6 separate regions of the Homo sapiens genome follow, and regions 1, 2, 4, 5 and 6 are each reported to be linked to region 3. The links are microRNA targets in miRTarBase. Many come from high-throughput screens and were not tested one by one. Region 3 holds a microRNA gene; each other region holds the end of a gene's coding sequence.

Region 1 (5,089 bases), not on the chromosome of region 3:
ACACCTGTAATCCAAGCACTTTGGGAGGCTGAGGCAGGCAGGTCACTTAAGGTCAGGAGTTTGAGATAAGCCTGGTCAACATGGTAAAACCCCATCTCTATTCAAAAATACATGCACACACACAAATTAGCCAGGAGTGGTAGTGCGCATCTGTAATCCAAGCACTTCAGGAGGCTGAGGTGGGTAGATTACTTGAGGTCAGGAGTTCAAGACCAGCCTGGCCAACATTGTGAAAACCCTGTCTCTACTAAAAACACAAACAATAGCTTGGTGTGGTGGTGCATACCTGTAATCCCAGCTACTCAGGAGGCTGAGGTACAAGAATCACTTGAACCTGGGAGGCTAAGTTGCAGTGAGCCGAGATCGCGCCACTGCACTCCAGCCTGGGTGACAAGAGTGAGGCGGGAGAGATGGGAGAGGGAAGACAGGGAGAGGGGAAGAGGGGGAGGCGGGGAGAGGGGGAGAGGGGAAGAGGGGGGGGAGGGGGGGAAGGAGAGAGGGGCAGAGGGACAGCCAGTTTCAGCTGTCTCTGAAGGAATCCCCCTAAAATGTGCTCTGTTGGCCAGGTGTGGTGGCTCACACTTTGAGAGGCCCAGCACTTTGAGAGGCCGAGGCAGAAGGATCGCTTGAGCCTGGGCAACATAAATCTGTACAAAATAAAAAAAAAAAAGCTGGGAGTGATGGTGTGTCCCTGCAGTCCCAGCTACTCTGGAGGCTAGGCGGGAGGATTGCTGGAGCCCAGGAGGTCGAGGCTGCAGTGAGCTATGATTGTGCCACTGCACCCCTGCCTGAATGACAGAGCAAAACCCCATCTCAATAAAAAAGGTGGGGCTCTGTCCACACTAGGGCCAGACCATTAAAGAGGAAACACGCGGGGAATCCTAATGATCACAGTAGTAATGACTGAAGTGAGAGACGCTCAAGGGAAAGAACCCAAAGGGCCTGAGTCACCCCACTGGAGCAGCCCTCCTTTGCTTTCTGGCAGATCTGCTTTCCATTTGTTCTGCTTGCCTGCAACCCTGGAGAGCTCTGTGCTTTGTTTTAATAAAATCTCCCCACTCTCTTCCAGTGCCTTCCTGCCTTCTCTAACTACAAAGTTCTTTAAGAAGCCAAGGGAGGCGTTACCTTCTTGTATGCAGTCAGACTTCCACAGGTAAGCCAATCTCTCTCTCTCTCTCTCTCTCTGTGCAATCTCCATTTATGAACATGGGTATATTTCTTTTAAAGAAATATTCTTTGCCTTCAAATATTTTTTTCCTACTAATCAAATCATTTCAGCCTTGTCCCCAATTGAAGTTCTCTCTTCCTGCCCACCAACCCCCCTGAACATGTTCCCAGGCCTTGCCACCATGTAAACCCGTAATCTTTTATACCACTATCCATATTGGTTTATAAAACAGAGGTATGCAACACATTGGAAAGAAAAAATGGCACCTGTCAAATACCAAACCCTATGAAATGCCTGTGCAATTTCACTTTTCACCTAGTAAATATCCAATTATTTTCCAGAATAGCTCTTTCCAGAATTCAAATCTGTTTCCATTAATATTAAAAGTTTAGAGGTCTGGGAGAACAGGAAGTGGCTGATTAAAAGCAGGTGGGGTTCATTATCTGGTTAATCACAATCCAGTATTTCCCACCTCCATTTGCCTCTCCCCCTCCCCCAAAACCATGTTCTGCCTCAGCAAAGGTCACACTCAAATTCTGCAAATAAAAACTTATCCTATAACATTTCAAGAGTGGAGCTGGGTTTTGGAGGGCTTGAGACCAGAATCATTATAAAAGAAATTTATTTCATACCATTTTCGCCAGGAAAGCAAATATCTTCCAAAGCATTGACTATCATTCTATCGCACAGAAAGGATGCCGATTGTGCTTCTTAGAGTCAGGCTCTGCTTGAATGTTAGTAATAGAATATTTAGAGTTGGAAGTGTCTCCTGGAGATTCCCTGCCCATTTATTAGATGGGGAAACTGAGACTGAGAGAAGAGAAGGGATTTGCTGAAATTGTACCTCCAGTTAGTGGCGGAGCTCAGACAAGGACACGTCAGTCCTAGGCATTGCTGGTGTGTGGGAAAAACGCCAAAAGGGCCTGACTGGAATGAACTGCAGTCATTTCTCTGTCTACTACATCTCCATGGGCCACATGTTCATGGCTCAGCTTTTACTTGCTCCCCTGAGAATTGACTCAAAGGCAAAGCCAAAATGGATATTTTAATGCAAAGCACATTAGGAGGCCAGAAGGCAAAAGGAGGTACTGTCTGGGGCTGCTGGCTGCACTTGGCTGGGAAGGCTTTGCTCCAGACCTTAGGAGACTGTTCATTCGGATGTTCTAGGTGCCAGCGCCAAGGGGAAGGCAGGGCAAAGGCTGAACACTGGCTATGGCAGTGCCCACCCCTTCATGGAGTCCACATCTGACAAGCAGTGCAGGTGGAGCTATGTGACATGTCCCTTGGAGGTGAGGAGCAGCCCTCTCAGTGATCCAACGTTCCTCAGAAATTTTTAGGAGCTGAAAGCCTTCCAAAGTGGGGCAACTATGTTAAGGCTTGATGGGGGGAAAAAAAGGCACGTGTTTTGCAGCATGGTTTGGAAAAGTATTCAGACAGGACACAAGGGAACCGATCCCCCAAAAAACAGGGACCAGCCAGTGCCATCACTATACACAGGTGACCTTGGTAGTGTCTTCTCTACTCCCAAGACTACTCGAAACCATGTCTTAGATGTCTTGTATGTTGCTGGTGGGAGTTTCACAGCTTCTGTGGAAACCTGCCTGGTGGTTCCTCAAAAGGCTTAATATAGTGTTACCATATGACCCAGTAATTCCACTCCCAGATACACACATACTCAAGAGAATTGAAAGCAGAGACTTGAACAGATATTTGCATACTAATGTTCACTGCACTGTTACTCGCAATAGCCGAAAGGCAGAAACAACCCAACTGGCCATCAAGAGATGACTGGATAAACAAAAAGTCTATCTATCCATACAATGGAATGTTACCCATAAAAAGGAATGAAGTACTGATCCATGCTACAAGATGGATGAACCTTGGAAACATTTTGCTAAGTAAAAGAAGTCAGTCATGACCACGTGTGGTGGCTCACACCTGTAATTTCAACACTTTTGGACGCTGAGGTAGGTGGATTGCTTGAGCCCAGGGGCTCGACACCAGCCTGGGCAACATGGTGAAACCCCAACTCTACAAAAAATACCAAAAAAAAAAAAATTAGCTAGGTGTGGAGTAGCTGTAGTCCCAGCTACTCGGGAGGCTAAGGTGGGAGGATTGATTGAGCCTGGAACGTTGAGGCTGCAGTGAGCCATGATCTTTCCACTGCACTGCAGGCCTGGGCAATAGAGACCTTATCTCAAAATAATAATCATAATAGCCATCCTAATGGGTGTGAAGTGGTATCTCATTGTAATTAACTACCTGCCCTCTCTTAATGGGTCTTACGGTCTTGCTTTCACAGTGATTATCCTAGTGTCTATTTTTTCTTGGAACTCTGGACAGGTCTGCATATGGTTGGAAAGATGACCCTTTGTGAAACTGTGCTTGAAGAAAGCAACAGCTCCCTCTGCTGTCCCCAGCCACACTTTTGGTACAACTTTCTCATATTAATGAGTCAAGATCTCCCTACCTAGGTTCTAACCCAGTTTCTTCTCACCATACCATGACACTGCTATAGGCTCCACTGCTGTTCTATCTCACCAATTTGAAAAAGGAAAACCTACTCATCTTGCTTCCAGTCAGCAAATGATTCCTGCATAGATAGATGTGCATTGATTGCCGGCTAGGAGCCTTCAGCCATCCTGTCTTAGTTCGTTTTCTGCTCCTATAACAGACTGGGTAATTTATAAAGAAAAATAGATTTATTTGGCTTATGGTTCTGGAGCCTGAGAAGTCCAAAGCCATGGTGCCAGCATATGCTTGGCACCTAGTGAAGACCTTCCTGCTGTGTCCTAACATGGCAGAATGGCAAGCAAGCATTCAAGACAGAGGAACAGGGTTGAAATTATCCTTCTATCAAGAGTCTATTCCTATTATAACAGCATTAATCCATTGATGAGGGCACAGCCCTTATGGCCTAATCACCTCTTAAAGGCCCTACCTCTTTTTTTTTAAGATTGATGGTGTTTATTGTTCTGAAAATAGAATTCTGCCGTTTGCTTGGGGCTCTGGACACTGCAAAACTGAACAAATGGAAAACTCAAGAGTCTTGCTATGCATCAGTGGGGGTGCCATCCAAATCCAAGGCAAATAAACGGCATTCGGTACTCACTGTGCACAAAAGGAGAGCATTTTATTTTCATGGATGTGGATGAAGTACAATTTCTTCAGTAAACTCAGGAAAAACTGTTAAGGGGCAACAATGAACTCTGCATTTAAAGAAAAATAGAAAATGAAAACACAAAATCCTAAAAAGTAAATAAAGATTCTGTGTCAGCACACTGGTATCAAAACACACATCAACAGCACGTCTTAATCATACGGGAAACAATCCTTGCTTATCAGAGGTGCATATCTAAATTCTATAGCTTACCAATATCTTCTTGGGAGTAGGCAAAAAAGAAACAGAAAACCTCACATTAAAAAAAAAAAAAAAGTTTCTTTTCCCTAAATGTTTTCCTGAAGCTGAATCTTAAGGCGAGAGGACGTCAGTCATCCTCGTCATTCTCACTGAGGTCGTCATCGTTGTTGTCCTCCTCCTCTTCCTCCTCGACTGCTGGGGTCTCCACCCTGGAGCCACTGTACTGAGATCCACCGGAGCTTGTGGCCAGCATCCCAATCGCAATGTTGGTCAGGTCACTGGCAGAAAGCCACGTGCCATTAGACCTGGAACCTGCCGTCGTGAACACACCTCCAAAAGTTCCCTGAGCCATTTCTGTCACGTACGGCTCCAGAGCCTTTGGGACCAAATTTCTGGCCATTTTAAGGTCTTCGGCAGAGCAGCTCCCGGACTCTAGCCCAAAAGTCATGCCCATCCACATCAGCACTTCTGTGTCATCGTGGATTTCAAAGGAGCTGTTAAACTTAAACAGATATTCTGATTTGTCGTCGGAGATGCTGCAGTTGATGACGGTCTTCTTG
Region 2 (5,000 bases), not on the chromosome of region 3:
AAATGCCTGCCTGGCAGTCACTCACTGCCCATTGGATCAGATTATTTGGCATTTACTTACCAAAACGCCACCATATAACTGTATTCTCAGGTGGCAAAACCCAGAGTCAAACAAGATGTGGTCATCTACTCATAGTGAAAAACAAAACTTTTACAAAGTTGACAGATAACATTTATTAAAACATGTCATACAAAAGGGCATGATCTCTTCTATAAGAAGAAAATATTAAACATTAACATTCAATTAAGTAAAACCATGCTGTACACTGAAGACAGCAATATATAAAGACAAAACTATTCAACTTTTGCAACATAGGCATAACATTTCACAAAATATCAATAAGATATGCACCTAATGATAATCTGTTTATCATCAAATGGTTTTGTGGCCTAAGAGTCACCTGACTTGCATAAATAAAGTACTTTTCTGGACGAAACATTGGGAACCTCACAAAAGGAAAGAAGGCAGCAGCAACTAACATGACACAGGCTTCAAGCAAAAATTAAAAAAAAAAAAAAAAGTCACATTTGCAAAATGTGTTCCAGCATCTCCCCATAGGGCACTATCAGTAGAGATTTGAAATAAGAAACTTGTACCTTTAAATATGTAAGTAGCAAAGAAAAAAACCCCAAACAAACCCTGGTTTCACTGAACAAAAGTTAGTCACCCACTAAAGCAACCTAAATCACAAAACTGGTGGCACAGGAGGGATTGGGGATAACACAGTGCTGGTTTCCAGCACCCCTAAATTATCAGAGACCTTCCAAAAGCAAAAACCTGGACTCGTTGTGATGGCGCCCTCTCCACGCCCACCCAGGAGGCCGCAGCACATCCCCTTCCCCAGGGAAAGCACAGCTTTGCAGCTTCTGCTCCGTCTCAAATTCACTCCACAGCAGCTTGGGGGTGTGTGAGCCTCTCAAGGAGGGAGCCCTGGAGGCTAAGCAGCTTTCCCCGGTGGTTAGAAGCCAGCCTTAGGGGCAGGTTAGTTCAGCAAATGCCCACTAGAATGGAGGGGATCCCTTTGGGCAAGCTTTTAAAGTAGTGGCCAAAAGGGACCAGAGGAAGATGAGACCTAGAAATCGGAATCAACAGGCTGGGGGCCTGGAGCGCCTGCAGGCAACCTACAGCCCTGCAGGGTAAGTTACCGCAGTCCTTCCTTAGTTAACGGTGACATGCACTTCACCACGTGGATTACTGTAACGTGTGTATCTAAAGGTAAAAGCATGGCATAAGTATGAATTTTTTTTTTTTTTTTGAGACAGAGTCTCGATCTGTCGCGCAGGCTGGAGTGTGGTGGTGCAATCGCGGCTCACTGCAACCTCCGCCTCCCAGGTTCAAGTGATTCTCCTGCCTCCGCCTCCCGAGTAGCTGGGATTACAGGTGTGCGCCACCACGCCTGGCTAATTTTTGTATTTTTAGTAGAGATGGGGTTTCACTATGTTGGTCAGGCTGGTCACAAACTCCTGACCTCAGGTGATCCACCCATCTCGGCCTCCCAAAGTGCTGGGATTACAGGCGTGAGCCACCATGCCTGGCCCCAAGTATGAATATTAAATACCACTGGTGGTGCCTTGAAGCCCTTTCCCATGGGGATTGAAGAAAAACCACAGTTAAGACTCAAAGTAGGGGACAAATAGCTTGGTTGTAGGCCATTGACGTGATCCCTGAAAGATTGTTTGAACAATGTTACCCACAACCATCCAAACTTATTAGGAAGGATAAAGATTTTCTAAAGCTATATTGAGGTGAAGAGAAGAGACTATTCCTCCAACTCAACGTGGGGATGAAAAAAAGGTAAAAACCAGAGTTTACAAAAATTCACTTTTAATATTCAAATGAAAGCAACCCCCTTCTCCTGCCTCTCTGAACATGGCCAGCATTTCAGACACCCTACCACCTCCCAGGCTCTGGCTGCCTGATAAAAAAATCCCAATTTTTGCCAAAACCTCAAATACCACAAAACACTAAAAGAACAGATGTGAGCAACTTATTTAAGTTCTACATTTAGTAGCTGATGGACACATAAGGCTTTCAAGAAGACACTCTTCTCTTCACAACATATTAAATAAGTCCTAGCACAACTGACTGCTTCCAAAACTACCACCCAAGCGTGCCACCACTCTTGGCTGAACAGAAACTCTTCCTCATGACAAGGGCACTATGCTGATTTCAGCAGAACTGAAGGACCACGACTCTCCCAGAATATCTGTATTTTTACCTCTCAGACTTCTCCTGCAATGTCCTAATGATCATGTAAATAGTCTTCAATGAGAAACAGGACATCAAACCTTCCAAACAGGCAGAAAATGCTCTGCTAATACCATGGGAGAGGGTGATCAGTTTTTGGCAGAACAAAATGGCATCACCACCTTAGTACTGAAATTAGTAGGAGTAATAGAACAATTTCTCCTCAAATATAATGGCTAGGATCATACCTAAAACCCACTGGCCTCTACCATGAGTGAAAGAAAAGGAGACAATAGGCTTGATTGTACAATCCCCTCAGTATACGTGTGTCAGGTACACAGAGAAAAGACTGCTAACCAGTAACGTTTCAATACTAAGAGAAGCTATTAATGTGGCAAACAACCAAGAGGTAATATCTAGTTTCTAGGTTTAAAAAAAAACAATATATATATATATTTATAATAAAGTTTTAAATACAAAGTGCTTTTTATATATCGAGAATGATACAGTGTTGTGAATAAATCCCTGTTTGTAATCTTGCTTACAAGAGTTAACTGGTAAATAAGTATTTTCTTTCCTCTTTCCAGACAATGTTCAACAAGTAAACACCCTGGTGTTAGGAGCTTGAGAATCAGAGGCCATTGCCAGCAATGTCTATTACATTACAGCAAAGCCAAACTTTTCAAATAAAATTTCACCCCAAATCCAAGAAAAATTATTTTTATTTTAAGAAAAAAAAGTTTCTATTTAGAAGTAAATAACCCAGTACGATTGTGGAAAAGATGACATGGTAGTAGCACCCTGTCCTACCCTGGTGATAACCTCAGGTATGTTACACAGCTTAAAAGCATGTGCAATATTACCTTTCTTTTTAACCTAAATCATCTAACTGATGGGCAGAAAAGGTCTCAGAATAGTTGCTTTTCTTGTTTGTTTTTTTAATTTTTTTTTTCTGGTCGGCGTAGCTTTGTGGACTTTTAAGTTTAAGCAGCTTTATCTATAATGTGGGAGCATGGTTCTGTAGACTACCTTGCTAAACTTAGGACTCCTTTTACAAACACATTCCAGTGCTCATAAAGAACTGGTAGTATTAGCTCAGTGTACCCTCTAAAGAGTATCTCCCCCACCTTGAAAGAGTGTATTCTCAAGATTCTTCTTGGGCAGTTTTGTCCCCCTTAAGTATAACCACTCATAGAATCCTGCCTATCTGCCCTCTCACTCTGGTTGGTGGAGTGTCACCTTAGCACTCTATGAACTACTCAAGTTCACAGGGAACTCTCAGCCACAACTTGTGGCTCCTTCTCACTAAGTGTGGTCATGGACCACTCTCTTTGTAAAGCACCATAATCTAAGACAGAGCAGGGGCTGTGGCAGCCCGTGGTACCGTGGTCAGTCACAGCAGCTTGGTGTCTACCAGCCACAGAGAAGACCCCACTGTATGGAGGCTACAATTAACCAAACAGGATTTGGGAAAGCAAACCAATGAGAAATACCTATCTCTGGCACCCTAGAGAATTACAATTAGATAAAATTGTCCAAACTCAATGTTAGAACTAAAATACAAAACACTGCCTTATCAAGAGTCTGAAACACCTTGTGACAGTAGTGGCATCTTACAGAAACTGACAAGGGCACTATGTCAGCCTTGTACCGTAAATTATCTGTTTCATATTTAGAAAGTCACTCTCTTAGCATCTCCATAGTTTTAGTTAAAATATCCTTTAGAAAGACTAAAACCAGACAACAGAGCTCTGTTAACCAATTTCTCATCCTAGGAATCACATTATTTCTAGCTTTTATATAAGTAGCACTTCCTTCAGTGAAATAGCTACCAAAACAAATCCACATTACCTAAGTATCTATAGCAAGAGCAAAATAAAATTTCAGCATGACCTTGTAATAATGAGTGATCCAAAGCTGCTGCCACCCAAAATGGAACTGGTGGGTGGAGTCCAGTTCCAAGTGCAGGTGTCTCTGTCCACCTGTTTCGATCACAACCAGTCAGAAGGTTTCCCTTGCCAGCTGGGCGGTGGGTTAACTCACCCCATTACCCATTCCAGGCCAGGACTGGAACACACAAATTTGAGGAATTAGATTTTTTTAATTGGCCTACTTAGAGCTGGTCTTTCAGAAATATCTTCCTTTTTTTTTTTAAGCTTCTCTCATAATAGCAAGTAGCACGCATCATCTGTGCCCAGATTTGCATTAATTACCATAGTTTATTTTTGTGCATGCCACTCAAGGGCCAGATCCTATTTTTAGTTAGCCTCAGTTGTATTCTGCTCAGCCTTTGCAGCTTCGTAGGACTTAGTACAAGAAGTCACATGCCGGTGGAAACTGTCCCTCCACATAAACCTCTTTGCACAGATATTACACTCATACGGCTTTATGCCTGTGTGAATTTTCATGTGGCCCACGAGATGGTGCTTCATTTTGAATTTCTTACCGCAGACCCCACAGCCGTAAGGCCGAAGACCGAGGTGCATGCTCATGTGCCGATCTCTCTGACTCTTGTGAGTGAAACTTTTCCCACACTGACAAGGATACAGCTTGTCAGTGGCTGAGAATCCTAAGTGGGAAGCTTCTTCTTTAATCCCTGTTACCATTTCAATATTCTCACTGTAACCTGCTGCGAGGGCAGCCTCCTGTCTGTGCCCAATTAGATTCCCATCTGACCTCTCTCCGGAAAACTCTTCCATGGAAGAGCCATAGAAATCCACCTGCTCATCATAATTGCTTTCATCAGCCTGTTCATCAAACTCAGCTTCCACTTTCTTCTCCCCGATGTGGAAGTCCTCCTCCACTCCCGAAGG
Region 3 (5,105 bases):
CTCAAATCCTCACAAGAGACCCTCAAGTAAATGCTTTTGCCATTTTTATTGGCTCTTTAGGTGATCAAGCAACCAGGTAAGTGTCATCTGAGCATACAGAAAAGGGCAGGTACAGAGATACTGAGTAGCTAACACATGCTGTTTTATAGGCTTAGCACCATGAGGGACAGTGAGGCAGATGGAGGAAAAACAGAAACTAAAGTTACTAGCCTCAAGGGGTTTATAATCTAGTTGAGGGGATATGTTCTAGCTTTTGTTTAGATGAACAATAATAATTTTAAATTAATTATTTTTTAGTTTATATTTAAGCCACTAATAAATCATTGACAAATTGATTTGTCACTAATAAACCGGGTAGTATTTTATACATTTGGCACTTTATGTCAAGCTCCTAAGCTCAGGCTAATCATTTTGTGTTCAAATCATATTAAAAATCGTGAACATCTACTATTTTCCTAGCATAGGAGATAGTGTGTGTGTATGAATGTCTGTACATATTAGACATATATATACACACATATGTATTATATCCCCATAGAGACATCACCTACATATATGCATGCCTGTATATATATATAGACACACTCACATGTATCCCTTCTTATTGCTGGAGAGACAAGGCAGGTGAAACACTTGGCGACAACATAAGATAATATACATATAGTTAGATACTACACTGAATATACTAAATATTCAATAGAGAATCTTATGATCAGACAATAAATACCAGTGGGTATGATCTGAAAGGAGAGATCTGGAAACACTTTCATAACTTGAACACAATAACATTTATCTTTTTGAATTACAAACAGAAAGAGCTCATGGTTTTTCTGTGTTTAAAATACCTGTAAGAAACATAAAACACCAGTGAAAGTAATCTTAAAAAAAAAAAAAAAAATCCCTGCCTAAAGCACAAAGGGCCTACGTTTTTGTTATTCCACCCCTTTTACTTTTCATACTCTGTGACTGGAAATGTTTTAATATCCAAAATGCTAGCAGCTTTTTCTCTTTCTATTCCCTTTGCCTTGCTGTAAGGTTGCAGAGCGAGGTTGAGAACAGACTTAATATCATGTAGTTACAGTCATTTTATGACATGACTTTTCATTCTTCTTAGTTTTTACAAGTTAGCACTTTGCATCTTTTAGAACCTCCACATCCTCAAACACAAACTATGCCTTTTCCACCCAGGTTTTCCTCAGCATCAGCCCAGTATTAGGCAGACAACAAGCTCAACAAATACTAGTTGAGATGAAATGGCTATTTTGTCTTTCTAGTGAACAGATCCTGTTTGAATACTTAAGAAAGCACAATAATACCCTTGTGGTTTCCTAGGGAAATGGTCCAACATCCACTGGCAAAAGATATGTTGCAGAATTAGCTGGCTTACCAGGCATGCCAAATATACGATACTACACAGGATGGTTGAATTTTATTAAATGTCATTCCAAAGCCAGACTTCACTGGCACAGTGAAAGGAGGCGTTCTTTTGAAGAGAACTGTGTCTTACAGTTTTGTTGCCTTCAAAATGGCCTTTTGTTCCAAATTATAAATTAGTATTTAAAAAAGTATCGTAACTTCAATGACATGTTATTTTTAAGGATAATTCAAATCAAAACCCATTATAAGTTTTTTAAAATTCACTTAAAAATGAGTTGGAAAAAATTTCATAAGCCTGTATAACCTCAGTGTCATTGAAGCAGTAATTGGACAATCCAGATCGCATTTCACATTGTGTGATGTGGACCAAAAAAAAGAGAGAGAGGCAAAGAAAGAGAGAAAGAACCACTCAGGGTTTGGCTGCGCAGCGTTTTTAGAGGCCTGTTTTCTAAGGAAGGAAAAGCACTTCGAAATACAGTGTAAGGTCAACATATTTGCTAGACCCGGGAGGTGAGCTGATTCCATATGAATCCCTATGGCTCTGTTATACCAAAAGAATATGAAATACCAAGAAATGGCAGTAAAGAAAGGAAGAAAATTTTTTCTTTTCAAATTCACTGACTTTCTCACTGAAAAGACCTTTCTTTCAGTTCCCTGCTTTTGCTGTGTCTTTCCTTGTTGCTCTTCCAAGCCTTTCATTGTTTAATGACGACTAATTCAATGGTAGGCAGAGAGCAAGGTATTAGAAAGTAAAAACTTCCTTTCCTAAGAAACCATTAGGGGGCTGTGGTTTGCCAGGGCAGGAGGTGGAAGGGAGCCCCATTTACAGTGGTAACTTCCTTTCCCTTTCCATCCTGGCAGGCTTCAGAGAACTTTACCAGCTGGTCGGTCTTTCGTTGCCATGGATACCAAGGATATCCCTCAGATTTTACAACAGATCTTCACCTCCACCATGTTGTCGAGTGTCTAAGAAGTGCCCTTCATCACCCTGATGACACCAGGATTTGAAATAAGACAGGAATAAAGAGTATTCTGAAAAAAAGAAGATATGGATGAAGTGAACCCATGCAGTGACTGGATGATTCCGGCATTCCTGGGTCTTCCTACACTTGCTCCGTAATGAGAATTCAGAGAAGCAGCCAGAAGGAGACTTAAACATGGAAAGATACTCCACTGATGAGTTTAGAAGTGATTAGGGCAAGCTAGTTGACCTGCACTTTATCAAAGGTTGGGGTTAAAGGAAGGTGGTTTTGAGAACTATGTGTTTGGTCTATTTCCAAAAACCTGAGGGGGAGAAAATACTTTGCTTTTGCCTTAACACATCATCTGGTCACGTTAGAAAAGTGACCCCATCAAACTGAGCCTTTGATGTCACATTCTGACACAAGATGCAAGTCTGTGCAAAACCCACCAAAATGCTCCTATCCAACAATTATTTTTATTTTCTCCCTGCTCTGTATTGACCAGAAAACAATGATTTTATAATATTTAACCCACCAAAAAGTCCCTCCAACAGCAATATCTTATGAAAGTCTGGCTGTTCTCAATAATTTCATTTTCTTGGCCAAAGCCAAAAGGAATCAAAAAATCCTTGGAGTGCTTGCCTTTCCACGTGACTTTTAAAAGGCTCTTAAAGAGCAAATGTCCTCTTCTCCTTGCTGCTAGAGTGGGAGGAGAAAGATGTCTTGCCTTAAAAGTTTACTGTTTCTTCTGTTCTTCTAGCATCTCTCAAAAAATTCACAGTACTCCATTTTGGGGTCCAAACTGTAATGCTCAAAATAATAAATGCTTACACGAAAATTATTTATTGAGAATATTCATATAAAAATTACCTAAAGCAAAGTAAAAAAAGTAAAATCAAGGTGGTATATTTGAAGTGAATGGTGATTGGAAATTTTTAGCTGTAACAAAAAGAAAGAAAACAACTTTTTTTAAAGCCTCATTCTCTTTTCTTTCAAAATGTACCTTATTCCCACACACTCTTGGGCTGACCTTTATTTTATCAATAAGCTCAATATTACTTTGTTTAAAATAAGATGCTTCAGCAAAAGTCATTCTCTCTTTAACCATATAATTTAAAAACTCCTCTTCACGATTGATAGCAAAATCAGAAACGTTAGGGCACCAGTGAGTTGAAAAAACTGGTCTTAAGTTGGAAAAACTATTATTAATAATATTATCCTATCCATCCATATCTATTGAAATTGTACAGGTCCATAATTTCATTTTAATTAATTATAGGAAAGAAGAAAAGATAATACCCATTTGTTCTATCACCCCTCTCCCTATCATTAACTATCAAATAAATAAATAAAAGCAATCTGATTTCCAACGTGGTACTACCTGGTGAGTTTGCATGGCTTTCTTGTTCCTCTAGTGAGACACCTGCTCCATGTATTGAACCATTCAATGATGCAAACAATTTCAATCCAACATGTATCTTTAAAAATGTAATTGCATTCCAACGGTCGCCACAACAGCAGCTAGCATTTACTGATGATTTACTGTGAACCAGGTATATGCTAAGTGATTGCATACATTATTTCATTCATCCTTACAACAATGCATGTAACAGGGGTATTTTTTACCTTATTTTGCAGATGATAAAGAAAGTGAGGCTCAGAGAATTTAAGTCACTTTCCCAAGATTCCTGTTACTAGACCTTTCACTAACTATTCATGGTACCATTAACATCCTCATTTTACAAGTAAAGAAACTGAGGCTTAGAGAAGTTCAAGAAAATAGGCCACACTCACAGCCAGGCAGGGGCAAAGCTGGGCCTCCAGCCTCCAGGCCCCTTAATGCCTTTGCGTCCCTCGCAGTCCCACGCCCCTTGCTGCATCTCACAAATGTACATGTCACACTCCTGCTGCCTTTTTCTCTTCCTTCCAGTGTGACTTCTCTTCTTGTACCCTGTCCACATTCACAGGGCTCTCTTCCTCTCCCTTTCCTCAGAAAGTCTATCTATCTGCCCATATTCGAGCACTCAGAGGTGTGGGGACCGAGGACATGGGACACTGTCGGGGGAACACTTCTAACTGCTGCTTCCTTGCTAGGCACAGCAGCAATCTGAGGAAGTGCCCTTCCAAGTGGCAGCTTAACCCCAAGGGATGCCCCTTAGCTAGCGGGTCACTGCCCCTGAAAGCCTTTGGAAGTGGAATCCAAGGGAGATTAAAGGAACAGCCAACCTTTAGCAAATCCTCCCCATGCGTAACTACCTGAGGAGGCAGAAGCCATTTTTTTTGACATGGAAAGAATGTTCTCAAGTAATTTAATTTACCTTTCTCGACCAGCCAGACATCCTCTGCAATTGCTATTTTTAAAAAAGCACAGTACTCCTGGCTTTTCTGATTTGTGAAGGGGAAGGATGATGGGGAAAGGGAATTGAGACTGAGAAGACGAAGAGCTTATTTTCACTTCTTGCAATACCTAAGAAGTATGTGCATTTATTATTAAATGTACTTAATTATAGACCACTCCAAGCTGTTCCCAGGCCCTTCTTAGGGCCAAGACATTATAATAAATGCATTGTGTGCCTCGGGGGGTTCCACTGAAAGGCATCTAACCCCTGTCTCCTTAGTAAGCACATGTAATGCTGAGAAGGTTCATTGTTACCCATGAGCAGCCAGGAGGAATGAATGCCGTGAATAGCTGCAGTATATGATGCATATTCCCCCTAGAATCCTCTGTGTGCCCGACAAAATGACCTCATCACAGATGGGGAGGCT
Region 4 (5,108 bases), not on the chromosome of region 3:
TTATCTGACCAACAGTCCAGCTTCTATTGGGTTGAGCCATGAGGTTTCAGGATTTATGTTATGGCTGCTAGCTTTTATTAATGCAGACCTGCAGACCTATGGGACATGGGGAACTAATTGGGGTTTGGGTTGTCATCAGAGGTTTATTTATTTTTTTAAGACAGGGTGTTGCTCTGTCACCTAGGCTGGAATGCAGTGGGTCAATCATGGCTCACTGCAGCCTCAATCTCTCAGGCTCAAGTAATCCTCCCAACTCAGCCTCCAGAGTAGCTGGGGCCACAGGCAAGTGCCACCACGCCTGGCTAATTTTTTTTTTTTAATTTTGTAGAGATGGGGTCTCACTGCACCACCCAGGCTGGTCTCGAACTCCTGGGCTCAAGACCTCCCAAAGCACAGGCATTACAGGCGTGAGCTACCATGCCCAGCAGTCTCCAGAGGTTTATACCCTGGTTTACCACTGTTGTTCCTCATCTCACTATTTTAACCCAGAACAAATGAGATAAAAGAACTTTAATGCTGAATTTTGATGTTAATTGAAAGCTAGCTTGTTGGAAACTCTGTTTACTGCTATCTCAGGACGGGGTGAGCTGATGTCCCCAGAAGACTACCAAAACGCAGGCACCTTCCCAGGGGAGGCTTACTGGCACCCAAACAGGTAGAGGTCTCTGGAAATACTTTTGGAAGCTGAAGAACGCTCTGATATGGAATGTAACATTTTGCAGGCAGAGGTGTACTCTTTTTTTTTTTTTTTTTTTGAGACAGAGTCTCGGTCTCCCAGGCTGGAGTACAGTGGCACCATCTTAGCTCACTGCAACCTCCATCTCCTGGGTTCAAGCGATTCTCCTGCCTCAGCCTCCTGAGTAGCTGGGACTACAGGCACGTGCCACCACACCCGGCTAATTTTTGTATTTTTAGTAGAGGCAGGGTTTTGCTGTATTAGCCAGGATGGTCTCGATCTCCTGACCTCGTGATCTGCCCGCCTCGGCCTCCCAAAGTGCTGGGATTACAGGTGTGAGCCACCGCGCCCGGCCCCAAGAGGCATACTCTTATAGCTCATGAAGACTTGAAGGAGGTGAGGAGCCTCTGCCCTGGGAATCCTCTCATGCACTTTCAAGGTTTTAACTGTCTTCAAAACTGTTAGAAGGAGCCTAGATCTCTCCTTAGCTTTTCATTTATATTTTCAAGAGTCTGAGACATTTTCACAGCTATTTCTTATAGGCAAGTCAAATTCAACATTTAAAGACCTAATTTAATCACCCAATCACCCAATATAGAAAATATGAGTTATCTTTGATTCCTCCTGATTAGACTTGTCAGTCCTACGTTTGACATTCCAAGCTCCTTAATTCTACTTTCCTATGGCACTGCCTTAGTTTAAGCCGCTCATTTCTTCCAGCTCCACCACCACCAGGAGCACTTCTCCAGCGGGTCTCCTTGCTTCCACTGTTACTGCGTCCTACTTTGTTCTAACGCCACCCTGGTTAGCCAGTGATCCCTTAAAATTAGGACAGATTATGCCACCCTCTGTTCAAAGCCCAACAGCTTCCCCCGTCATTCAGAAAATCCAGAATCTGGCCTACGAGGCCCTTGTTACCCCGATCTAGCTGCCCCGCTTGCTCTTCCCATCCCTGACTCCACACTAGCCACATCCTTCATCACAGCAGACACCGCTCGCAAAGCTTTGGCTCTTGCTGTTCCTTCAGCCAGGAATACTCTGCCCTTAGGTACGGAACATGAGGGACATGAGGGACATGACTTGCTCCTCGTCTCCTTCAGGCCTGTGGTCAAAGGACCCCAATCAGGAAGGCTTGCTTTTGCCACTGTCTGAAATTGCCACCCACCTCTCCTTTTGTCTCTCCACTTACTTTTCCTCTTTTTTTTTTTTTGAGACGGAGTCTTGCTCTGTCGCCCAGGCTGGAGTGCAGTGGCGCGATCTTGGCTCACTGCAAGCTCCACCTCCCAGGTTCACGCCATTCTCCTGCCTCAGCCTCTCCCAGTAGCTGGGACTACAAGCACCCACCACCACACCTGGCTAATTTTTTGTATTTTTAGTAGAGACAGGGTTTCACCGTGGTCTTGATCTCCTGACCTTGTGATCCACCTGCCTTGGCCTCCCAAAGTGCTGAGATTACAAGCGTGAGCCACTGCGCCCAGCCCATGGTGTCTTATAAGTGTCTTATATAAGGGTACCATTTTTTTTTTTTTTGAGACGGAGTCTCGCTCTGTTGCCCAGGCTGGAGTGCAGTGGTGCCATCTTGGCTCAGTGCAAGCTCCGCCTCCTGGGTTCACGCCATCCTCCTGCCTCAGCCTCCCAAGCAGCTAGGACTACGGGCGCCCGCCACCATGCCTGGCTAGTTTTTGTATTTTGTTTAGTAGAGACACTGTTTCACCGTGTTAGCCAGGATGGTCTCGATCTTCTGACCTCGTGATCCACCTGCCTCGGCCTCCCAAGGTGCTGGGATCACAGGCGTGAGCCACTGCACCTGGCCATAAGGGTGCCATTTTTAATCTTTTATATAACATTTTTACTATACCTTTTCTATGTTTAGACAAGTTTAGATACACAAAGACTTCCCATTGTATTACAGTTGCCTACAGTATTCAGTATGGTAACATGTTGTAAAGGCATGCGGCCTAGGAGCAACAGGGTAAGCAGCATAGCCCAGGTCTGTAGTAGGCTGCACCATCTACCTTTGTGTAAATGCACTCTAGAATCTTTGCACAACAAAATCGCCTAACAATGCACTTCTCAGAATGTATCCCCTTCATTAAGCAACCCATGCCTGTACTTGGTAAGTGGATTATCCCAAAAGCCTCCTGGTTTCCTGCCAGCTGCTCTGTCCCCTGACCACACCTGCCTCACCCAGCAGTGAATTCGACATGGGCAGGAATAGGACCTTGTTTACCACTGAATCCCCAGCACAGGGCCAAGTCTATGGTGGGTGTTCAACAGACACTGGTTCCTGGCCGGGCACGGTGGCTCACGCCTGAAATCCTAGCACTTTGGAAAGTCGAGGTGGGAGGATCACTTAAGCTCAGGAGTTCGAGACCAGCCTGGGCAACATAGTGAGACCCTATCTCATGGGAAAAAAAAGAAAAAAACAAAAACAGATGAAGACACTGGTTCCTAAATGAAGGTCCAGAACTGAATCTAATTCACTTCAATTACAGTAATTGAGGGCCTACTTATACTTTTCATAAAAATTATTTTTTATGGCTGGGTGCGGTGGCTCACACCTATAATCCCTGCACGTTGGGAGGCTGAGGCAGGTGGATCACCTGAGGTCAGGAATTCGAGACCAGCCTGGCCAACATGGTAAAACCCTGCCTCTACTAAAAATACAAAAAATTAGCCGGGCGTGATGGCGGGCGCCTGTTGTCCCAGCTACTCAGGAGCTGAGGTACGAGAATCGCTTGAACCCAGGAGGCAGAGGTTGTAGTGAGTCGAGATCGTGCCACTGCACTCCAGCCTGGGCAACAAGAGCGAAACTCCGCCTTAAAAACAAAGAATAATTATTTTGTATTTACTCTTAACATGATTTTAGCAGCCGAGCCAACCTCAGTGAAGGAGTGTCTGTTGCTACAGGTCATCCTGCGTGCCCTCTTGCAGACATGACCACCTGGCGCCTCAAGACTTCAGGCCTGGGCCTGCAGCCCCTTTCCATGCTGACAAGAAGCTGCGGGGCCCGTGCAGGGTTGTGCCTCAGCCAAGAGGGGTGCCTCACACATGCCCCTGCATGGGAGGAGGTGGGCTCACTCTCCAGCAGACAGACAAACAGAAATGGCCCCAGGGAACAGGTGAAGGTTCTGAGGCAAGTATTTATTCCAAGCAAACACGTGGGCGTGGACAGCTATCTCAGAGCCTACGTCACTCAGCAGAGTCACACATTTCAAAGCAGGTCACACAAGTCCCTCATGAACAGTCTTCCAGCTTCAGCCCTTCTCTTGCCACCTCTGTGGTCTGAGCTGGGGGAGGGGGAGGGCCTCCGAGTTCCCAAACAAAACACAGGTACCTAAGGGCTGAGAGAAAATTACACAGCCTTATTTTTATTAGTATCTATCAAGAAAAAAAAAAATCAAAATTCCCTTCCTGCTCCAACCCCACCTCCACCACCTGGGCCCTCAGGGAGCAGCATCTGCCCAGCGAGGACCTGCTGCCGGAGCTGTCCTTGGAGCCTGGGCACCTGTGCACGGCCACCCCTCATGCCTGTGAGCTGCCACAGGTCCCTTCCTCCACAGTGTGGGGACGAAAGGGCAGCTGGCATTTCTCCAACCTTCAGCTGTAGGCCTTGGGAACTTGGAAAAGATCAGCAATGTCCAGCAGGGCTTTGCGGATGTGGTTTCCAAAGCGCTGGGCGTTCTGTGGGAGCCAAGAGTTCAGATGCACCTTCAGATATGTACCCACCCCTCTGTTCCCACAAGCAAGGATGCCTCCCCAGCCAAAGACACCTGTGTTCCTGGGCAGCCCCAGGTGGCACCCCTTCCTCAGGCCTGAGCTGTGGCAGGAGACTCACCGTCTCTGAGCTTGAGAACTTGCTGGAGATGTGGAAGAAGATCGTGTTCTCGCCTGCAATCATGTAGGAAACTCCATAGCCATCATCTGCTACCTGAGGGCAACAAGAAGGGTGAAGAAGGCATAAATCAAACCTTGAAGATCTGAAAGCCAAGCTGATATTGTACTTGTTCTTCCCACAAGAGTTGCAGGAACGGGCCCCAGCCCTAGACACTGCATTTTTCCTGAGGACCACCCCCAGGAAACTGTGAAAACCAAAGAATGCTGCCCAGACCCCGCCAAGGGATCTGGGACCTCCCAGTTTCCCTCAGGGGGCTTATTCTCTAGATCACTCCGTCTCTCTCCAGAGGGTTCTCTAGCCTTCTGACAAGCTAGCCCATGTGAAGGTTTCTGTGGGAGACAGCTGCACTCTCTTGGATAAGTAGACTTCAGAAGCACCCAGTGCACTGCCCAGTACCCTGGAAACCAGCCCCACAGTCATGCTTCAGTACCCCGGAAACCACGGTCATGCTTCAGCAGGGAGGTATTTGGGATGGGTGGGTCCCAGGTGCTTGGCTGCCTGAGTCCATAGCTAACATTCTGCTTCCATGCAGGT
Region 5 (5,108 bases), not on the chromosome of region 3:
TCTGAAGAGCTGATAAAAGCCCTAGAATAATGTCCAAATGCGCATAGGTATAATTTTGCTTATCATTTCAAGGCATTAAGGACTAATTTTATTCAAAAAAAATTAGAAGAATTCAGCCATAGTCAATATTAATAAACAAGGAATGACCCAATTGTTTTTCATATAAGGGACAATTATTTTGTGTTTTTTAGTGAAACTACACAAGTCTTAAAACTGAGGTGCTTGACAAACTTCTGTCTTCCCAGGCCCTCTTCCTACTCCCAAAACTTCTGATTTAATAGGGCCAAGAGGGCCTGGGCATCAGTATTCTGAAGTCCTCTAGATGATTATTTCTTTCATCTCCATAGAGGATGATATTTCATAATATTTGAAGACTTAGAGGTTTATCCCAGCTCAGGAAACCATGGAACTTTCCTGCTGCAGAGCATCCCTCGTCCTACCTGTAGCTGATCCTGCTATAGAGATGGGGTATCAAGAGCAGAGGAATTGCAAGCAGGTGGGGATTGTGTGGGACCCATCCTGACCCCATTTTGCCTCTCTGCAGGAAGTTGGAGCTGCCACCTGTGTCTGGACCTGTTGAAAGAGAAAGCTTCCATCTACCAGAACCAGAACTCCTCTTGATGTGGCCACCCACCTGCTCCCCGACATATCTAAGGCTGTTTCTCTCCTCCACTTCATATTTCATACCCATCTTTCCCTTCTTCCTCCTCTCCTTCACAAATCCAGAGAACCTTGGGGTGGTTGTGCCAGCCTGCCTTTGGCAGCTGCAAGCTGAGGTGGCAGCTCTGACCACCTCTGGCCCCAGGCCCTCAGGGAGAAAGGAGCAACACACTGCCCCTAGGCGTGCGTGTGGCCCAGTTTCTCTCTGCTCTCCATTAAGTGCATTCACTCTGCTTGCCTTGGGCCCAGCCCCTGGTGATCACAGGGTTCAAACAGTGTCCTCCTAGAAAGAGTGGGAGAGCAGCTCACTTCTCTGTGTTCTGCCTCCCCTCTGGTCTCCAGAGTTTTCCTGTCCTCTAGAGGCAAGCCAGGCCAGGGAGCTGGGAGCGAGCAAGCTGAGGCCACGTCCACAAGGAGCTTTTCATGCCCCTGTGCCGCATAGCCTCACCTCTTTCCTCCAGAGTGGCTCTCTGCGGCCCTGTGTTCCTGCTACAGAGTGTTCTTTTCTGGAGTCAGGATGTTCTCGGTCACCCTCCTGGTTCTGCCCTGTCCCATTCCACCCCACCCCAGGGGGAACAGTAGCTTCACCTTGTTATTCCCATTGCTCTCCTGGCTCACTCTTACGGTCGGTCTCCAGTGACTGAAGCATTCCCCACCCTTGGAATTTCTCATCTTCTGCCTCCCTTCCTACTCCTTTTGGTTTTGTGGGGAGAGGGGAAGGATCAGGGGGCCAGGCCAGCAGCTCGGGGGCCACAAGGAGATGGATAATGTGCCTGTTTTTTAACACAACAAAAAAGCCTACCTCCAAAATCCCCTTTTTGTTCTTCCTGGACCTGGGCATTCAGCCTCCTGCTCTTAACTGAATTGGGAGCCTCTGCCACCTGCCCCGTGTATCCTGGCTCTCAGCTCATGGGGAAGCCACATAGACATCCCTTTCTTCCCTTGCACGCTCGCTAGCAGCTGGTAAGGTCTTCACACCCTGATTCCTCAAGTTTTCTGCTTAGTGGCACTGACATTAAGTAGTGGGGGGACAGTCCATGCCAGGACACCCTGGAGTAGCCTTCCCCCTTGGCCGTGGGCAGGCCCTAACTCACTGTCGCTTTGGAGTTGAGGTGTCTTTTTTTTTTCTTTCTTTAGTTCCTGTATTCTAAACATTAGTAAAAATAAATGTTTTTACACAGAGCCCTCTGCTGGATGGTTTATCTCCTGCCTTTCTCCATTAAGAAGGCCATTTCATCCTAAGATTTCCATGATGGTGGTTTTTTTTTTTAATGTTTTGAAATACAGCTTTTTTCCCCCCAAATTAAAATTTTTTTGTGGAACCCCAATATGTAAAGCGAATATAAAATTGGTTATTTTGTTTTGTTACATAAATTCAAGTTTATAACAATTCTTTGTTATAAAGAACAATGAAGCTGTTTTGATCAATACAAAATTTGGGTTAAAATCAACTTTAACATCTATTTTTATGTTTCAGTTGATTTGGAGAATTCTCCTAGTCTTGGATACATAGATGGAAGTGATGACAGGTTTATAACAGTTGACCTTGCAATCTCAGACATTTAAAACAGGACCAGAAGTTTATATAAATATAATTAATAAGCAAACTAATGACATCACCATGGGACACACACAAAAGTTCTTGCAGGAGCAGGGTCTGTGTGGCTTCAGTTGCCTGCAGCGCTCCCAGGCCAGAGCAAGTGCTCTAGGATCTGAACTGCCCGCAGTGCAGCCCTGCAGCCTTTCCCAGGGCACGTTGATGTGCACACAGTTTCCCTGAAGGCAAAGTGAACATGTGGAGAGCTTACGTGGCAGCGCGTATGTCTTCAGTGTGTGTTTTAGAAGTCCAACTGTTGTTTTTATGTTTTTAAAGGAAAGATTTGAATCAAGCAGTTATGGGCCCCCTGAAGTATCCTTTTTTCTAGAACATTCTGAAAGTCATCCTTGCCTATGGGAAGCCTAGGCCGGCCTGCACTGTTATGTTCAATAAATAAGCAGGGTGCTCTGGGCTGGGGATTGTGTGAGGAGCAGAGCGCAGCCCGTCCTCATGCTTTTCCACTGAAGTAGGCCAGGCAGAGAGGGAGTACAGCAATGGATGCGCTTTGGCAGCTGAGTAGTCCGAGAGCCAGAAAAGAAATGTGGAAAATAAGAACGCTGTAGCAGGCCTAGGTGAGGAAATTTAGGAAGGGTTTGCGGGAGGTAGGATTTGAGATGGGTCTTGGAGAGTTGGACAGTGTCAGCCGGTAGGACGGGGGTGCGGACGGAAGCCTGTGAGGAAGGCAGAGGATGCGGAGCTGTGAGCGGAGGGAGCAGCGAGGCTGGAGAGCAGCTGGGCTGCGGGTCAAGACGTCTGCGTTTAATTCGGGACTGAAGGTTAGCAGGGAAGGGAACGATGCCAGATCTTGAGTTTAAGAACTTGAATCTTGTAAAGTACCAAATCTAATAAAATACTCGTCCTAAATCATTACTGGCCCAAGCATGCAGTGTTTCCGTGGCCGACAGACTCGAGCCAGCGCTGTCCATGGTAACCAGCTTTTGTGTGGCTTAAAGCTTGCATCCATTTTCTCCTTTCATCGTTTTCCCAAAACAATTCCGTGAGGGCTGTTAGCCCTGCTTGGTAGACGAAGAAGCCGATGCGGTCTAGGGTCACGGCCAGGGAGGCTTTGGGACGCCAAGTCAGCTCGGCGGTCACCACACCACCTACAGGGCTCGTCGGGCCCTCGGGGTCGGCGGCTGCTGGAGGCGCCCAGGGGAGTCCTGCTGGTTCCTGGCTCCGCCTCCCGCCCCTCCGCGCTAGAAGCCCCGCCCCCAGAGGGGCTCGACGAACCGCCACTTCCGCAACGTCCAATGAAACTTAGCCGGGGGAGGGACGGGGCGCCACTGAGGACCAATCTGCTTGGGCCGGGGCGGGGCTGCGGCGGGTGGGTGCAGAGGGGCCGCACCGCGGACTTCGCAGCCGGGAGAGAGCCCGGCGCGGGCGGCGCGCACGGGACTCTGCTGTGCGCGCGCCCGCCCGCCCGCCGTCCGCGCAGGCCCTCGGTCCGCTCTGCCCTCGGGGTCGTGGCGCCCATCCCTCCCCTGTTCTGCTGTCGCCGCCCGGACAGGGGCTCGGGAGCCGGGCTGGGGGCAGGGGCTGGAGCCGCGGGACCAGCGCCTGAGGTGGGTGCGGAGCGGGAGGCCGGGCGGGCGGGCGCCTGGGGCCGCCCCGCCGACATACTCCGGGTCGAGGGGGAGTGACCGGCCAGGGCACGGAGTCCGGCTGCCGGCCTGCCTGGGTCCGGGCGTTCGTTCCCGCGCCCTGGGACCCTCCCAGGCCACCACCCTCCCCGCGGGGACACCCCGCCCCTCCGCTGCCCGCAGCCTCCTCAGGCCTCCCGCCCTTTGTCGCTCGTGCACCTGCGCCCTCGGCCCTGCCCTCTCGCTCCCCTCAGGACTGACCGTCGCCTAGCCTCCCTCTCAGGACCCGGCACCAAATTAGCCTCGCTCCTTCAGACACCCTCTGTCCCCTTTGTCGTCTGTACACCTGTCACCTCAACTCTGTGTGCATCCACCCACCTCCCACCCCCCAGCGGCGTCATCTGAATCCAGCCCAAGCCGCCTCCCACTCCCTCCCGGGGGCTCCTCCCCCGCAGCCCCGTAGCCCCACACCTGCCCCCTCGGCCCCAGTCCCAGGCCCTCCCCCGTCCGTATGCCTTTGTTATCTCTGCAGCTGTCCCCTGCACTTTTCATCCTTCTTCCCGAGTGAGGCCAGACCCCAGCCCAGACTCCCCTGTCCTTCTGAGTGGAGAGACGCCCCCTCCCCAGCTCTGCCCTGGCATCCTGGGGACGGGGCCAGCCGGCTTCCACTCGGCCTAGCCACTTCCTCTTTCAGCGGGTCCAGTCTCACCCGGTGCCTGCGCAAGTCCTCATCTAATCTCTTTTCCCTCCTGCGCTCCTTTCCTAGCTCTTCCGGCCTCAGATTACTCTACCCGCTCAATCTTTCCTCCCCGCACAGGTGCCCCGGAGAGGCCATGGAGCTGAGCAGCAAGAAGAAGCTTCACGCCCTGTCCCTGGCCGAGAAGATCCAGGTGCTGGAACTCCTGGATGAGTCCAAGATGTCCCAGTCGGAGGTGGCCCGGCGCTTCCAGGTTTCCCAGCCCCAGATCTCGCGCATCTGCAAGAATAAGGAGAAGCTGCTGGCGGACTGGTGCAGCGGCACAGCCAACCGAGAGCGCAAGCGCAAGCGGGAGTCCAAGTACAGCGGGATCGACGAGGCTCTGCTCTGCTGGTACCACATTGCCCGGGCCAAGGCCTGGGACGTGACGGGGCCCATGCTGCTCCACAAAGCCAAGGAGCTGGCCGATATCATGGGCCAGGACTTCGTGCCCAGCATCGGCTGGCTGGTCCGCTGGAAACGCCGAAACAACGTCGGCTTTGGGGCCCGCCATGTTCTTGCGCCTTCATTCCCC
Region 6 (5,000 bases), not on the chromosome of region 3:
GTGCACGCCTTGCCTCTGTCTCCTTCAGTGCTGATTCTTTCCCCTCCATTCAGTTGTCAGCGCAGTTGCTCTATGGAATGTGTTGGGCAGAAGCCCAGAGTGCATGCTCTGTCCAATAGAAATGGCCACACATCACCCCGTGCCCTAGCCCACTTTGCCCAGATGAAACATGTGCCCAATGATGCCATTTTCCAATTTTCCAAGATTTTCATTGGAAATCTCCCACTTTTAAAATGTTTACCCTATTAGAATAATAAGCATGTGCAGAAGAAAGCACCATCTTGCTACTCCTGCTGTGGCAGTGCTGCTCCCCAGGAATTCACCCTCAGCTGTTTCCTTCTAGGTTAGAGTTTTGTTAGGGCTTCAACTGTCCTCCATACGCATGGATGGATGTGTTCCCAACTCACTCTTGAGCCCCAGAACAATACATTCAATCACCTACTGGGGTCTCCATCTGAATGTACCAGAAGCATGCTCAACTCAAAATGCCCTAGACTGAAGTTGCCATTTTCCTCCTAACACTAACTCTCCTACAATCCCTGCCTTGGTAAATGAGCCCACTGTTTACTTGATGCCCAAGCCAGAAATCTCAACTCTTCACTATTCAGATACAAAATCCTGTGGATTCTAACCAACCTCTCAGCATTTCTATCTACCCAAGGAACTGCCTCTCCGTGCATGAAGCCATTATCTTCAGGCTGGAGCAGGACAATGACCTCTAGTCCTTCCTCTTCACTCCACATTTCCACCAGAATGTGCTAACACAGTTCTGATTATGCCATACTCCCTTTTCATGCAACCATTCCAAAAACATATTCTGTGTGTGACACTGATTCCATGGGATATAAATGGTGTTGTGTGACAAAGAGTTCTATGATGACACAGGTTTACAACCAAAAATTTGAACACAGCTTTAGTATTTTTTGTAGCTTCTTGGAGCCCTGCATGTCTAATGTATATTTTGATTCTCCAAGAGGGCAATACAGCAGTAAGGAGCTTCTCAAACTTATTTGGCCATGTAATTCTTTTGTCATGGGACATTTTAAGGTATCAGTGTTTAATGGTGACAAATATTATTCAATGGCTTTCCATTATCTACAGCACACAATTCAAATTCCTTACTACAGGCCTAAGAACAAGGACTGTGAAGCCAGAGTATCTGGGTTCAAATTATGACTGTGCCATTTGCTTAGCTGTGTGACACTGGACAAATTCTTCTCCATGCCTTTATTTCCGTATCTATGAGGATGACAATACCGTGTGTCATAGGGTCAGTGAAAGGATTAGAGTTACTATTATACTGATAGTCCATTCAAAGTGTGTAAGACACTGCCGGGCTCATCGTATTAGCTATATTCTTATTCATGGTCTTTTATCAGCCGTCTTCTCCATCTTTACCTCCTCTTATAAAGGTAGGTCTACTTGTCTTTTGTGTCCTGGGACTGCATCTCCATCGCTGGTGTTGCTCTTCTCTCTGCCTGACGTTCCTCGCCAGTCCCTCGCCTTTCCTCCTACTGATCTGCACCTGTGAGCTCAAACTTTTCCATGTTTCCCAGGCAGACTTGTGCACTTGCACAGTCAGCAAGTATTTATCAGGTGACCAGGATGTACCTCACATTTCTGCTGGGAGGCAGGCGTGTCATGACATTGAATACCCTGACTCCCTGTACATGCCAGGAAGTGTGACTCTGCGACTTCTCACATCCATCCTTCCCTTCTACACCCAGTCTGCTATAGCCGGTTTTAGCCTCGTCCCCTCATCCCATTCCCCACTAGACCTCAAACTGCTCCAGAGCCTTTCATCTTTGTATCCCCAGAACCTAGAATAGTTTTTGGCACATAATATATGCCCAATAAATATGTGTCAATTGCATACATGAATTTGTCTTGGCCACCGTGCCAAGCTCTCCACTGCCTGCTACGATGTGGGACCAGGTCCTCTCTGGGCCTCAGTTTCTTTAACGGTAGACAAGCAGAGTAAAGGCTGCCTCACTGCGCCCTGAGAGGCTGCATCGCGCACTCTGTGACCTCGCTGTTCCGCCTGGCGCGCGGTGGGAGCCCAGGGCGGTATCCAAATTCTCCGAATTCTTGAAAGTAAGCGGAGAAGACTGCGCAGGATCTGAGCGGGTCACACCCAGGGGGCTGCGTGGGCACCCTGCGGTCCCCTGCCCGCCCGCCGGCCCCGCACTCACGCTGCGCGTTGCAGTTGCCTCAGCAAGTACGCGACCCGGGCTCGGGCGGCAGCGGCCATGGCGCTTGGAGTCCTCTTCCCTCCTCGGGTCGCTACACCGCCCCCTCCGCCGGCCAATCACGGAGGCTGCCCGCCTCCCGCCCCTCGGCCGCGCCTGCCCACCCGCTTCGCGGGGTCACCTGTCTAAGCCTCAAGCCAGTCGGGCTCAGGGCCATTTTCCCACGGAGTAAGAACCAGAACGCCAGCTGCCCCAGCGGCGCTCGCACCATCCACCCTTGAAATTGCCGTAGAAGGTAACTGCTCCGTAGGCCTCGGGTTCTGCCTTAAATCTCCTTACTTATCAACTCTATTTTTCACATGTTGAGGACTTGGGGGAAGGAAGAGGAACAGGGATATTCTTTTTCCACTGTTAATCCTTTAAAATGTTACTTTCCCTTCTAAGAGTATTTTAAGTGATCAAGACCCTGCCTTTAAACTGTTTTAACAGTAAACAAGAACCTAGCAGAGCCCGAGGGTTTTTGTTAAATACTGTGTGAATGGCTTTGCTTTTGATGAAAGCAAAATCAATAGTTAAAACTCTTACATCAATAGTTAAAACTTGCCATGATTAGACTATGCTCCGGGAGGGCTTGGCTGTGCCATATCTGCCATGTCCCAGTGGAAAAGCTGATTAACGATAAAGCTCAACTTTATCAGAAAGTATCCAAAGACAGTAACAACTAAACATTTGCATTTTTAGTAATCTGTTATTATGAAATCTGAATCCTTTATGGGAGATATTAAGTTTTACAGAAATGAATTTACTGCGATCAAACTGGAAAAGATTGATGGACAGGAAGACCAAGGACAGCTATATAAACATTTCACCTCCTAATCAAACCAGCTCAGGCCAACTTGACAAATGAATCAAAAAATAATGTTCTATGAGAACACATGTACACAGGGAGGGGAACAACACACATTGGGGCCTGGGGGCAGGGGATAGAAGGGGGCAGAGGGACTTAATACTTAGGTGATGGGTTGATAGGTGCAGCAAGCCACCACAGCACACGTTTACCTATGTAACAAACATGCACATCCTGCACATCTACTCCGGAACTTAAAAAAAGATAATAATGTCCTAATTAAGGATCTTATGGGTCTGTTTCTTTCTTCCCCCAAACAAAACTATACCTGACGTCAAGCTTAAAAACAAACACACACACACAAACAACTGGGGATATAAACGTAGAGAAAGATTTAAGTGTTTTCTGGATTAATGAGGATTATTACCATTAGTCAATGAAGCCCAAATTGATCATTTACAGGAAATCCATGTGTTCAGTGTTGAAAGGCATAAAATCTTTTTAAAAAACAGACATCAGTTTTACTACTTTGAATATTATATTTGATACCAAAAGAAGTATAAGTTTAGAAGTGGTATCACTGAAACCATTATAATTGAACTGCTTTTTTTTTTTGAGATGGCCCCTTCCTCTGTTGCCCAGGCTGGAGTGGAGTGCAGTGGCGTGATCTGGGCTCACTGCAACCTCCGCCTCCCAGGTTCAAACGATACTCCTGCCTCAGCCTCCCAAGTAGCTGGGACTACAGGTACCAGCCACCGTGTCTGGCTAATTTTTTTATTTTTAGTAGAGATGGGGTTTCACTGTGTTGGCCAGGCTGGTCGCGAACTCCTGACCTCAGGTGATCCGCCCGCCCCGGCCTCCCAAAGTACTGGGACTCTACAGGAGTGAGCCACTGCGCACGGCCTGCTTTGTGTTTTTCAGAAAGTAAACAAAAATAATCTGTACCAGGTATCCAGGTAACCGGCTTCAAGTACAATTTCTACCCAGTAGTCAGAAAGTTAAAAGTCACACTAGATAAGACATCTTTATTACTTAATCTTTAAAACAGTCACTTGCCTATTCAATTCTGAAACTGTTTGTTTTCTTTCCCTCCCCCGCACTCCCGCTCTGATACACAAACTTGTTGTAAAAATAATGCAGAAACATATACGTCAATCTAAGTCTCTGAAATATGGCCAACTCTACCTCGCCGTATATCCAACATTAAAAAGAAAAAAAAAGGCTGTTTAAGAATAGAACTCATTCCCGGTTTCCACCAAATTATTTCCCTAATTCTTAAATCCTCAAATAAGTTCTTAATCTCCAAAGTCTCGGTTGTGGGAAAAACATTAATTTGTGCAGTCCAACACTTACATACTTTCTTGACGGAAGGGCAATCCTGTCCCTTTAAACTCAATGAAGGCAGCGGCCAGGTCCTTCTGAGTCCCCGTATAATTGCCTAGAACTTAACATTTAGTATTCATAGTCCTTGGTTTACAGACGGGTCCGACAGTTAGAAACTATTACTTCCTCCTCTTTCCTCCTGGGCGCTGTCCTCCTTTTCTCTTGCCACCCAAGCCAGGCGGCCCAGAATTCATCTTGCCTCCCAAGCCCCCTTTCCTCTTCCCTCCCTGGCTGGGCGGGCCCCCTTTCCTCTTGCCCCCAGGCCCCTGCCGGCCTCCCTTTCTCTTGCCCTTCTGGCTCATTTTCCTCCTCTTGGCGGCCTCCTCCTGGTCCTCCTCCCTCATCTGCTTATTGGTGGCCCTAGTCACATCCAGCTGAGGCTTCTTGCTGTTCATGACACGAAGCAGCTCCAACTGGTTCTTTTTCTCGGCTGCAAAGTCCCCGAAAAGGGGTTGAAACTTCCTTTTCTTGCCGGAGCCCCGGGGCACCTTCTCCTTGGGGAGGCGCTCCTGAAAGCGCCCCACAGAGGCGGTGGAGACCTTGGCCACTTGCATGGCGCGGCCCAGCTCCTCCTTACTCTG

What was found. The annotated mature microRNA hsa-miR-5006-3p reads UUUCCCUUUCCAUCCUGGCAG and lies in region 3 at 2,218-2,238, shown strand. An mRNA with a match to its seed (bases 2 to 7 or 8) in the 3' UTR can be bound and repressed. Matches are read on the target gene's strand: a 7mer-m8 pairs with bases 2 to 8, a 7mer-A1 pairs with bases 2 to 7 and ends in A, and an 8mer does both.
Region 1: miRTarBase lists TFDP3 as a target of hsa-miR-5006-3p. Seed matches in the 3' UTR shown: 7mer-A1 at 4,611-4,617.
Region 2: the mRNA of ZBTB43 is a reported target of hsa-miR-5006-3p. Seed matches in the 3' UTR shown: 8mer at 4,197-4,204.
Region 4: the mRNA of CPT1B is a reported target of hsa-miR-5006-3p. The part of its 3' UTR that is shown has no 7-base or 8-base seed match.
Region 5: the mRNA of DPF2 is a reported target of hsa-miR-5006-3p. Seed matches in the 3' UTR shown: 7mer-m8 at 3,044-3,050.
Region 6: miRTarBase lists RRS1 as a target of hsa-miR-5006-3p. Seed matches in the 3' UTR shown: 7mer-A1 at 4,300-4,306 and 7mer-A1 at 4,121-4,127.

What each region holds. Positions count from the first base shown.
Region 1 is chrX:133,212,386-133,217,474 of GRCh38, forward strand. It overlaps TFDP3 (transcription factor Dp family member 3), which reads right to left. Exons shown (of 1, transcript NM_016521.3): 1 at 4,277-5,089. The coding sequence ends at 4,657. Among named protein-coding and RNA genes, the nearest start is that of TFDP3, 3.4 kb to the right of the region's middle.
Region 2 is chr9:126,833,359-126,838,358 of GRCh38, reverse strand. It overlaps ZBTB43 (zinc finger and BTB domain containing 43), which reads right to left. Exons shown (of 3, transcript NM_014007.4): 3 at 149-5,000. The coding sequence ends at 4,446. Among named protein-coding and RNA genes, the nearest start is that of ZBTB34, 25 kb to the left of the region's middle. RefSeq lists an enhancer at 4,652-5,000.
Region 3 is chr13:41,565,439-41,570,543 of GRCh38, reverse strand. MIR5006 (microRNA 5006) reads left to right here and starts at 2,149; the gene lies at 2,149-2,258. VWA8 (von Willebrand factor A domain containing 8) reads left to right here. Exons shown (of 45, transcript NM_015058.2): 44 at 1-76; 45 at 2,239-3,709. The coding sequence ends at 2,347.
Region 4 is chr22:50,565,062-50,570,169 of GRCh38, forward strand. CPT1B (carnitine palmitoyltransferase 1B) reads right to left here. Exons shown (of 20, transcript NM_152246.3): 18 at 4,515-4,607; 19 at 4,275-4,360; 20 at 3,800-4,020. The coding sequence ends at 4,277. CHKB-CPT1B (CHKB-CPT1B readthrough (NMD candidate)) reads right to left here. Exons shown (of 30, transcript NR_027928.2): 28 at 4,515-4,607; 29 at 4,106-4,360; 30 at 3,800-4,020. It overlaps LOC107985568 (a long non-coding RNA gene), which reads left to right. Exons shown (of 2, transcript XR_001755606.3): 2 at 3,546-4,082. Among named protein-coding and RNA genes, the nearest start is that of SYCE3, 4.7 kb to the left of the region's middle. RefSeq lists an enhancer at 5,104-5,108.
Region 5 is chr11:65,351,139-65,356,246 of GRCh38, forward strand. DPF2 (double PHD fingers 2) reads left to right here. Exons shown (of 11, transcript NM_006268.5): 11 at 545-3,124. The coding sequence ends at 621. TIGD3 (tigger transposable element derived 3) reads left to right here and starts at 3,613. Exons shown (of 2, transcript NM_145719.3): 1 at 3,613-3,819; 2 at 4,655-5,108. The coding sequence starts at 4,671. RefSeq lists silencers at 3,341-3,400, 3,491-3,810, 3,831-3,890, 3,901-4,070, 4,131-4,320.
Region 6 is chr8:66,429,768-66,434,767 of GRCh38, reverse strand. RRS1 (regulator of ribosome synthesis 1) reads right to left here. Exons shown (of 1, transcript NM_015169.4): 1 at 4,035-5,000. The coding sequence ends at 4,539. ADHFE1 (alcohol dehydrogenase iron containing 1) reads right to left here and starts at 2,264. Exons shown (of 14, transcript NM_144650.3): 1 at 2,193-2,264. The coding sequence starts at 2,251. LOC102724687 (a long non-coding RNA gene) reads left to right here and starts at 2,402. Exons shown (of 5, transcript XR_929013.3): 1 at 2,402-2,484. RefSeq lists a silencer at 2,011-2,430 and an enhancer at 4,187-4,236.